Linked DNA regions of Homo sapiens: region 2 is linked to region 1. The links come from fine-mapping of genetic effects on gene expression. A gene starts in region 1. The other region holds a variant in brackets. All regions are shown on one strand. Distances are from middle to middle.

The links. PIP is the estimated chance that this variant, and not a neighbour inherited with it, causes the effect.
Region 2: its variant is the best candidate, but not a certain one, in a credible set for the expression of NDUFS1 in lung (TOPMed, PIP 0.67).

Annotation. Positions count from the first base shown.
Region 1 is chr2:206,156,600-206,161,980 of GRCh38, forward strand. NDUFS1 (NADH:ubiquinone oxidoreductase core subunit S1) reads right to left here and starts at 2,845. Exons shown (of 19, transcript NM_005006.7): 1 at 2,742-2,845. EEF1B2 (eukaryotic translation elongation factor 1 beta 2) reads left to right here and starts at 3,296. Exons shown (of 6, transcript NM_001959.4): 1 at 3,296-3,460; 2 at 3,989-4,111; 3 at 4,747-4,873. The coding sequence starts at 3,381. It overlaps SNORD51 (small nucleolar RNA, C/D box 51), which reads left to right and starts at 5,282; the gene lies at 5,282-5,351. RefSeq lists enhancers at 2,523-2,932, 3,043-3,302 and a silencer at 3,563-3,632.
Region 2 is chr2:206,095,172-206,100,552 of GRCh38, forward strand. No RefSeq gene overlaps it. Among named protein-coding and RNA genes, the nearest start is that of INO80D, 12 kb to the left of the region's middle. The variant T/C (reference allele first, on the strand shown) is at 3,106.

The DNA.
Region 1 (5,381 bases):
ATGTGATTAGAACGTATTAAAAAATTTCAACATTAAAGTTTCAATAGTTGCAATAGTATTATTGAATAATAGTACATATACATAGGTTTTAAGCACAAAATTCTGCATACTTATCATAGATGATGTACAACAGGAAATTTCATTCATAAATTTCATTAATTAAGAATATGTGATACTGAAATTGCAAATATCCAATCTGTTTCCTGCTAGTGAGTAATGTTGGGTAAATGAGTTTCTGGTTCTTTACTTATAGAGCAGGAGGAAAACAATACTTCCTAGACAATGAGCTATTAGTAGGGGCTCAACAAATGCCAGTTAAAGCTGAATTCAACTTAGGCAATACTGGCCACTGACAATCAGTATGTGTGTGTGTTTTGAGACAGAGTCTCACTCTGTCACCCAGGTTGTAGTGCAATGGTGTGATCTTGACTCACTGCAACCTCCGCCTCCCAAGTTCAAGCAATTCTCTTGCCTCCCAAGTAGCTGGGATTACAGGCACCTGTCATCACGCCCGGCTAATTTTTGTATTTTCAGTAGAGAAGGGGTTTCGCCATGTTGGCCAGGCTGGTCTCAAACTCCTGACCTCAGTGATCCACCCGCGTCGACCTCCCAACGTGTTGGGATTACAGACGTGAGTCACCGCGCCTGGCAGACAACCAATTTTAAAGCACTCTTTCTTTGAGCTCTTTTTCTTTAGTACCAGTACACACTGTGTAGATATTTTTGTTTTACTTACTAAACTGTAGGTTAGTAATCAATTTTAGTACCTACCAGACTGTAAGCTCCTTGAGGACAAGGAATTTGGACATTTCCCTTTTTTGAAGACCTAGCACAGGACCCTTATGAAAATAACCACCAAACAGTCTTATCACCAAGTTCTAGAACTAGAGTAGCATCTGTCCTATTAAAAACTACTGATGGCATAAATATAAACCTAAACTTACTCCATTAGAGCACTGACAGATTTGAAATCAACAATCAGTATTTCATACAATTTTAAAACTTTAATACTTTTTTATCTCCAATGCAATATAAAAATAGTACTCACTTTGGATAGGAAATCAACTAGAACTAGACTGTTGACATCCAGCAACAAAGCATAGCCCAACATAAGAAATACAGATTTGCAACACTTCGATATGTGCTTTGAACATTGATATGCCAAGTAGCAATAGAAATAATTATCTCTTTGGATGGAAAATGTTAATGACTAATCATTTCTTAAACTAGACTGGATACTTTTCCATATAGGGACTATGCTATTCCACGTTCTCCAACATGGATCCATCCATTTACTTCTTGCCTTCCAAGGTACCACCCTATCCCAATCCACCATCACTCCTTGCCTGGAGTATTTCAATAGCTTTTTTTTTTTTTTTTTTGAGACAGAGTCTCGCTCTGTCGCCCAGGCTGGAGTGCAGCGGAGCGATCTCGGCTCACTGCAAGCCCCGCCACCCGGGTTCACGCCAGCCTCCTGCCTCAGCCTCCCAAGTAGCTGGACTACAGGCGCCCGCCACCACGCCCAGCTAATTTTTTGTATTTTTAGTAGAGACAGGGTTTCACCGTGTTAGCCAGGATGGTCTCGATCTCCTGGCCTCGTGATCCGCCCGCCTCGGCCTCCCAAAGTGGTGGGATTACAGGAGTGAGCCACCGCCTCCGGCCTTCAATAGCTTAACAGGTCACCAAGCTTCCACACTATTCCCACACAGCCTCTCCCCTCTTGCCACCGGCTGTGACCTCAGACTGAAATGCTCTTCCCTGGCCCCTCCTTATCCTTCAAATCTTGGCTTAAAAGCCTTTTCTCAGTTTCATTGACCAGGCTATCTAACATTTACGATTCCCCCAGCATATCATCCATTTTATTCTTCTTTACGGACTCATTTCTGGCTCGTAGTAAATGTTCAATAACGGTTAAGTGAACTGAATCTCTAATTTCTGGTCGTTAATTTGTAGAGACCACTTTCCCGGATTTAAAAAGTGCAGGTGCTCTGGCAGCCTTAAGTCGGTGAAAACAAGAATATTCCGCAAAACAAAAATAACTTGTTTATTCATCAAAAACAGTTAACGTTACACTTCTATACCGTCAATTCGTGTGTGAACAGAGTTGTGTCTGATCCAAGACCTTACAGTTCAAGCACTGGATCCCAATAACCTGTAAACAACGTTTTGTTATTTGCAATGCAATCCTGGGCTAACTTTTCAAAAGTCGTTTTTCTCAATTTCCCGTTAGTTAAAGGAATAAAAAAATGCTGTCCAACGTGGTCAATGGACCAAACAAACAAGGACAACAAACAGAAGCGTGAGCCATTGCTAACACAACAGCGACCAAACAATCATGCACTGTATCAGGCGTGTAAAAATCTGGGGGGAAAGGCTTAGTCTTAAGGCCTAAGTCATCGGACACTGGTCCTCTCCCGGGGAATAAAACGGCCTCCTCCTCTGAGAGGGAAATGTCCTGAATTTTCCCTGCAGAGGGAAGGTCACCTGCAAGCCTACATTCGTGACAGCGTTCCCGAGGACCCCCTGATCCTCATCTTCTTTTCTGCTTCATCAGACCAGAGACCGTGGCTAAAAGCCCCCCATCTGCCGGCTCTCAGGGGCTTCCGAGGCGGCGGGGCGGGAGGCGGCGCCCAGTCAAGGACAACAGAAGACTACGTCGCGTGGGCCAAAGGAAACAGTCCCGTCAATAAATAAGCCTCTGGCCGACGCACCTCACCCTTCCCATCCATACAAGACCTCACCTTCTCCCCGGAGCCGCGGAGGCTGTTCTGCTAAACTGTCTGGACCACGACGACCCCCTAGGAGGCCGGGTCGCTTATTCAATATGGCGGCCTCGGCTAACTCTGTCAGCCGGGCCTGGAGAACGGAAAGCCCGGAGGGACTAGAATCCTTGCATTCGACAAGTTTGTCGGCAATTTCCGTCAGCCGACCAGAGGGCGGAGCTGAGGTCGGCCCAGCCCGGAGGCGGGAAGGACAACTTGGACCCGCAGTTCCGCCGGAAGTGGCCCCAGCCTCGAGGCCGGGCGTCTTCGGTCATCTCCGGCGCTTCTAGGGCTGGTTCCCGTCATCTTCGGGAGCCGTGGAGGTACGAACTTAAGACATGCCTATTTTATTAATTTACTTCCAAACGCAACGAAAGGTCCATGGACAATTTGTGGGCCATTTAATTCAGGGCCCCCAATTCGTACGTGGAGAAGTGGGAATGCAAAAGTACTTTGACCTTTAACCTTCGGTCCGGCGCGGTGGAGGGAAACGCCTCCGTCTCTATATAAGGAATTTTCCGGTCTCTTCGGGTCCTTTTTCCTCTCTTCAGCGTGGGGCGCCCACAATTTGCGCGCTCTCTTTCTGCTGCTCCCCAGCTCTCGGATACAGCCGACACCATGGGTTTCGGAGACCTGAAAAGCCCTGCCGGCCTCCAGGTGCTCAACGATTACCTGGCGGACAAGAGCTACATCGAGGGGTGAGCGGACGGGCTGAGTCGGGGTGGCGGGGAGGTTTCTCCGCCCGGGGCCGGGGCCACGTGGCGCAGCGTGTCGGCTGCCGCGGGAGGGAGGGAGGCCGGGCCCGGGGCCCTTTCGAGAGGGAGGGGAAAGCGCCCCGTTGCCGTCTCCCAAGGCCCTCGTGTGGGGCGAGCCCGGCCTCCGGGGAGCGGTTCACGAGCAAGGAAAGGTTAAAATGTGCTTTATTTACACTTAATTCAGCCAGGTGTTTCCGCATCGCTGCCCAGTTAATACATGTTAAGCTGTAGATAGAGCAACGCCAGACATTGCAGTATTTGAGGTCTACTTAGTGGCAGACATTTCTCAGGATAGCGCGGTGACCCAAACATATGGTTTGATTTGAAGGAGCTAATAAGAAAAGAAAAGCATTAAAGCAACCCTGCTGGGGTTAGTGCCCACTAATTAATGTGATGCATACGGTATTTATTATTTATTCGCTGGCGTTTGTTTTTCAAAGGTGTGTGTGAATGTTTCTGTGTCCTTGGCAGGTATGTGCCATCACAAGCAGATGTGGCAGTATTTGAAGCCGTGTCCAGCCCACCGCCTGCCGACTTGTGTCATGCCCTACGTTGGTATAATCACATCAAGTCTTACGAAAAGGAAAAGGCCAGGTAAAATCATCTTTGTATAGAGCTGAAGAATAAGACTGCTCTCGAAGTTTATCAGGATGTTCACATGACAAAACTGGACCCAGGCTACTTTAGTTTTGTTGGGATATTGTAAGCTAAATTTTTCTGTAACCTTAGAAGGCCAAGAGACTGAAGCCCTCCATTTTTTCACAGAACAGGTAGAACATGGACAGCAGCAATTCAACTTTTCCCCACACTGCCCTGCCAATGTGCCTCGACCTTGACCTGGGGGGCCCACCTCTGGGGTGAGAGGGTGGCTCATTCATTCAGTCCTTGGCCATTCTTCTGAAACTGCCAACAAGGGTGGAAGTTTGGGGAAGTGGACTCCAGTTCACTAAGAATGGAACTGAGCATACTTAATGAAATCTCAAACAGAAATGTTCATACTGAAAGAGTAAATCATAGTGAGTATTGAAAATAATGTCTCACATGGTACTAATGCTTGTCGGGTGAGGAGTTGAACATATGACAGTGTTTACCTGGGCGCATGTGAAAGGGTAAATTATGATTGCAAAAGGGATCTAGTGATAAGTAGTGATTAAAACAAGTTATTTTGTATTTTCTGGAAAAGGATGTTATACTAGCTCAATAGTGGTTGAATTTAAATGTTTTTCAAGCCTGCCAGGAGTGAAGAAAGCTTTGGGCAAATATGGTCCTGCCGATGTGGAAGACACTACAGGAAGTGGAGCTACAGATAGTAAAGATGATGATGACATTGACCTCTTTGGATCTGATGATGAGGAGGTATGGCGTCTTCTATAAAGAACATATCGGCCAGGCGCAGTGGCTCATGCCTGTAATCCCAGCATGTTGGGAGGCTGAGGCGGGTGGATCACGAGGTCAGGAGTTGAAGACCAGCCTGGCCAAGATGGTGAAACCCTGTCTGTACTAAAAATACAAAAAAATGTGGCAGGCATCTGTAATCCCAGCTACTCAGGCGGCTAAGGCAGAGAATTGCTTGAACCTAGGAAGCGGAGGTTGCAGTGAGCCAAGATCGTGCCACTGCATCCAGCCTGGGCGACAGAGCGAGACTCCGTCCCAAAAAAAAAAAAAAAGAATACATCGATCAGCAATTGTATCAATGTGGTTAAGCCAAATTGCCTGGATTTGAATCCTGGCTTTAATTTATATGCCTTTTTCAAATTCTGACTGGTTGCATGATGAATAAAATCAAATCACCATCTTTCGGCTGAGTTCGTGATGGATTTGCTTTTTTCTGATTAAGCCAGTCTTTTTTGTGATGACCCCACTA
Region 2 (5,381 bases), 61 kb before region 1:
AAATATACACCGTAAATATTTGTTGGATTAATGAATATTTGAGATTTTGGATTCTTTACTATTTGATAATTAAGGTATGGCTTTTAGATGGTTAAATGAGAAGGACTCTGAGGAATTGAGCATGGACTTTCTAACCATCTCACTACAAAAGTCCAAGATGATTAGCAAAATATCTGTGTAATTCTAGTTATTTCAGCCACCCTCAAGCATTATATTCCAATTGGCCATACTCTAGTTTAAAAACCTGGGAGTGGTATTAAGTATTCTTTTTCTTTTCTATTGACATATTTCTGTTGTGCATTTCTATTGCCAAAGATACTTAAAACGTGTGCATATCCTAGGTTATTTTAAGATGACTAGCCGTACAGGTCAAAAAATTTAAAAATGGAATATAAGAGAATCACCTGGAGTAAAAAGCAAACATAGAAGATGTAAAAATATATATGGTTGCCATTATAGCCTTTTGTGTGGAAACTCTAGCATATTTGAGCAAACATCTTTGAGTATTCCCTTTTCACATTTTGTAGGACATGATCAGATATACCATCTGCTTCTCTGGGTAACTTGGCAGCTGTTAATTGACTAACATTCCCTGAGTTCTGTTGTCACCATCAGTGGTTCTAGAACATAAGAACAAAAAAAGATTGTAAGAATAGCCTTCATAACCCAAGTTTCCTTTAAATCATAGAGAGAAAAAAAATAAGAACCTATATTGACCAACTGGGAAAAACTAAAGGAATATTTACATAATCATAAGTCATTTTAATTTTCTCTAAGGCTATTACTACAATATATCTAAATATTTTAAATGTATATATAAAGCAAGAGCAATTAAGTAATTTAATACCAACAGAATTTATATTTCAAATGGGGGGAAAATGGATCATCTCATTTTGTGGTAAGATATACAGATGCTTCCTGTTGCCCTGTCCAGAATGATGTTAACATTAACCTCAGAGGAGGCCGTTAAGCCAGCGTTGAGCTAGACAGTAACCATTATGTCTCTCTCTATTGAGGAGGAGGGGAAAAATGATGTTACCTAAATTTATGAGCTGCAAACTGAACACTTCATACAATGATGATCAATGATATGATAAGTTATCATTCAATTTCTACGGTTTGTGTCCTCTCTGAAATGAAGCTAAGAAAAAAAATTGTAGGGAAATAACAGACTGCCGTTTGCATTATTAGAAAGCTCACGTAACTGCACTATGCAGGCCATTTGTCTTTTTTTTTTCCTGTTAGAAGGGAGTTTTTATTTTCTCTGAATCAAACTATTAGAGTAATACATTACTGAGTTCATTTTTGCTTCTATCTCTTTATCTTGACTTGAGTTCAGAAAACTTGGAACATGTGCATTCTTTTAAGCTGTCTGAAAGGATTTTGTGTATTTATGGTTTTACATGCCGAGCTATTTTTCCTCAGAAATTCTGACATCAAATGTGTGAATTTTTTCTCACACCAACCAATTCTCCAACTTTCCGGACACCAACGGGGTATCCTACAATTCAATTCAATTCTAACATTAACGGCCCAGCATTAGCAGCAGACTCCACAGGTTTTAAAGAGTCCTCAATTCCAATGCCATTCGCAAGTATTGGGTCCCCAGGTTACCCACACACACTTCTTGGGTACAAAGTCAGGGAGTTCCCACAACTTTCTCCCCTTCAGCTTGATAATTTGCTACAATGACTCACAGAACTCAGGAGCACTCTTATATTAATATTTACTGGCTCTTTATAAAAGATATAACTTGGGAACAGCCAAACAGAAGAGATGCAGAGAGCAAGATATTGGCAGGGGTGTTGGAAGCCCCGCGCCCTCTCTGGGCACACCACCCTCCTAGCAATTTGATGTGTTCACCAACCCAGAAGCTCACTGAACCTGTCATTAGGGGTTTTTATGGAGGTTTTGTCAAATCAGGATGACCAATTATTAACTCAGTCTTCAGCTCTTCACACTTCCCCACATATTGAGGGGATGGGCTGAAAGTTCCAGGCTTCTCATCAAGGTCTAGTCTTTCTGGTGACCAGGCCCCATCCTGAAGCTATCTAGGGCCCCAGCAAGAAACCTCAGTAGAACAAAAGATGCTTCTATCAACCAGGAAATTCCAAGAGATTAAGGAGCTCTGTGTCGGAAACTGGGGACAGAGACCAAATATTAGAACAAACGACGCTCCTATCATCCCTATCACTCAAGAAATGGCAGTTTTAAGAGCTCTGTGTCAAAAATCAGGGACAAAGTCCAAATAGATAGATAGATAGATACACATATATATACATATCTCTCTCTCTATATATATACACATATATATCTATTTCTTACTATGTCACACATGCTAACTCCTTATTCTGAAATAAAAGCAAAAAGCAAACACCAAACCAATAACAAAAAGCCTCCACAATGTACAGGTGTTATGGGGTCACATCATGATAAACCTATTGCGAATTGGGAATATTCTTAAATAAAAAATGCATTTAATGTACCTAATCCACCAAACATCATAGCTTAGCCTAGCCTACCTTAAATGAGCTTGGAACACTTACAATAGCCTACAACTGGGCAGAATCATTAAACACAAAGTCATTTTACAATGAAGTGTTGGCTGGACGCAGAGGCTCATGCCTATAATCCCATCACTTGGATACTGAGGCAGGAAGATTGGGCCGGGCACGGTGGCTCACGCCTGTAAGCCCAACACTTTTGGGAGACTGAGGCAGGTGGATCACCTGAGGTCAGAAGTTCGACACCAGCCTGGCCAACATGGTGAAACCACGTCTCTACTAAAAATACAAAAATTAGCTGGGCGTGGTGGCAGGCACCTGTAATCTCCTAGCTACTCCGGAGGCTGAACCAGGAGACTTGCTTGAACCCAGGAGGCGGAGGTGGCAGTTAGCCAATATCGTGCCATTGCACTCTAGCCTGGGCGGCAGATCAAGACTGTGTCTCAAAAGAAAAAAAAAAAAAAAAACTGGACGACTTAGTACAGATGGTCCCTGATTTACCATGGTTTGACTTAGGATTTTTCAGCTTTACCATGGTAACCATACAACTATTCTGTCTTTCAGTACAGAACTCAATGAATCGGCCGGGTGCAAGTGCCCG[T/C]CTGTAATCCCTGCACTTTGGGAGGCCGAGGCGGACGGATCACGGGGTCAGGAGATCGAGACCATCCTGGCTAACACGGTGAAACCTTGTCTCTACTAAAAGTACAAAAAATTAGCCGCGCGAGGTGGCAGGCGCCTGTAGTCCTAGCTACTCGGGAGGCTGAGGCAGGAGAATGCCGTGAACCTGGGGAGCGGAGCCTGCAGTGAGCCGAGATCGGGCCACTGCACTCCAGCCTGGGAGACAGAGCGAGACTCCGTCTCAAAAAGAAAAAAGAACTCTTTTTTTTTTGACAGAGTCGTGCTCTGTTGTCCAGGCTGGAGTGCAGATCTTGGCTCACTGCAGTCCCGACCTCCCAGGCTCAAGTGATCCTCCCACTTCAGCCTCCTAAGCGGTGAGTAGCTGGGACCACAGGTGCCCCACTATGCATGGCTAATTTTTTTGTTTTTCTTTTTGTAGAGACAGGGTCTCAATACGTTGCCCAGGCTGGTCTCGAGCTCCTGGGCTCAAGCAATCCTGCCAATTAGCTGGGATTATAGACATGTGCCACCATGCCCAGCATATATTTACTTTCATTAATCTATACTACTGCATCAAAATTATTATAATGTTGTGGCATGTTAAGTCTTTTTTTTTTCTAAGACAGAGTTTCACTCTTGTTGCCCAGGCTGGAGCGCAATGGCGCAATCTTGGCTCACCGCAACTTCCGCCTCCTGTGTTCAAGGGATTCTCCTGCCTCAGCCTCCGGAGTAGCTAGGATTACAGGCACGTGCCACCACGCCCGGCTAATTTTGTATTTTTAGTAGAGACGGGGTTTCTTCATGTTGGTCAGGTTGTTCCTGACCTCAAGTGATCCGCCCGCCTCGGCTTCCCAAAGTGCTGGGATTACAGGCGTGAGCCACCTCGCGGACTGCATGTTAAGTCTTTTGAAGCAGGCCGGGCGCGGTGGCTCACGCCTTTAATCCTAGCACTTTGGGAGGCCAAGGTGGCTGGGTTGCCTGAGCTCAGGAGTTCAAGACCAGCCTGGGCAACACGGTGAAATCCCGTCTCTACTAAAATACAAAAAAGTAGCTGGGCGTGGTAGTGTGCGCCTGTAATCCCAGCTACTCGGGAGGCTGAGACAGGAGAAACTCTTGAATCCAGGAGGCGGAGGTTGCAGTGAGCCGAGATTACCCCACTGCACTCCAGCCTGGGCGACAGAGCAAGACTCCGTCAAAAAAAAAAAAAAGGCTCTTGAAGCACACTAACTCTTCCAAAATTAAGCTCCCTTAAAGGAAAATAGAATTATTAAAATGAAAACAGTAAGCAACATAACTGTTACTATTTCAGCTAAGAATCTTAAAGCACATTACAGACACTTTTCATCTTAACAATTGGAAAAAACAAGTACTAGCAAGTGAATTGCTTAAGATTACATAGACTAGCCCAATTCTAGAGAGAAATAATTCAAGTGTATCTTATTGTCATCTTGTTGTTAAGTACAGACATATTCAGATTTCACCAGTTTCCCACTAATGTTCTTTTTCTTTTTTCTTTTCTTTTTTTGAGACAGGTTCTCACTCTGTTGCCAAGCTGGAGTGCAGTGGCACAATCACAGCTCACTGCAGCCTTGAACTCCTAGACACAAGTGATCCTCCTACCTCAGCCTCTCAAGTAATTGGGACTGCTGACTTGAACCACCATGCCTGGCTATTTTTTATTTTTTAGTAGAGATGGAGTCTTGCTGTGTTGCCCAGGCTGCTCTTGAACTCCTTGATTCAAGTGATCCTCTTGCCTCAGCCTCCCAAAGTCCTAGGATTACAGGCATGAGCCACTACATTTGACCTAATGTCCTTTTTCTCTTCCAGAGAGTTAATCTTTCCTTGTCTTTCATGACCTTGACATTTTTGAAGAGTTCTAGTCAGTTACTTGGTATAACTGTCCCTGAGTTTGGGCTTGTCTTATGTTTTCTCATGATTAGATGAGTTAATATATTTTTGGCAAGAATCTCAGACATGATGTCCTATCAGGGAGTACATGATGTCAAAATGTGTTATTACAGACAGTTTATGTAGTTTTGTTTTCTTTCTTTCTTTCTTTCTCCTCTCCTCTTTCTCCTCTTCTCTTTTTCCTTTTTTTTTTTTTTTTTTTTTTTTGAGACTGCGTCTTGTGCTGTTGCCCAGGCTGGAGTGCAGTGGGGCAATGACAGCTCACTGCAACCTCCACCTCCTGGGTTTAAGTGATCCTCCTACCTCAGCCTCTTGAATAGCTGGGACTACAGTCATGCATAACCAACCCTA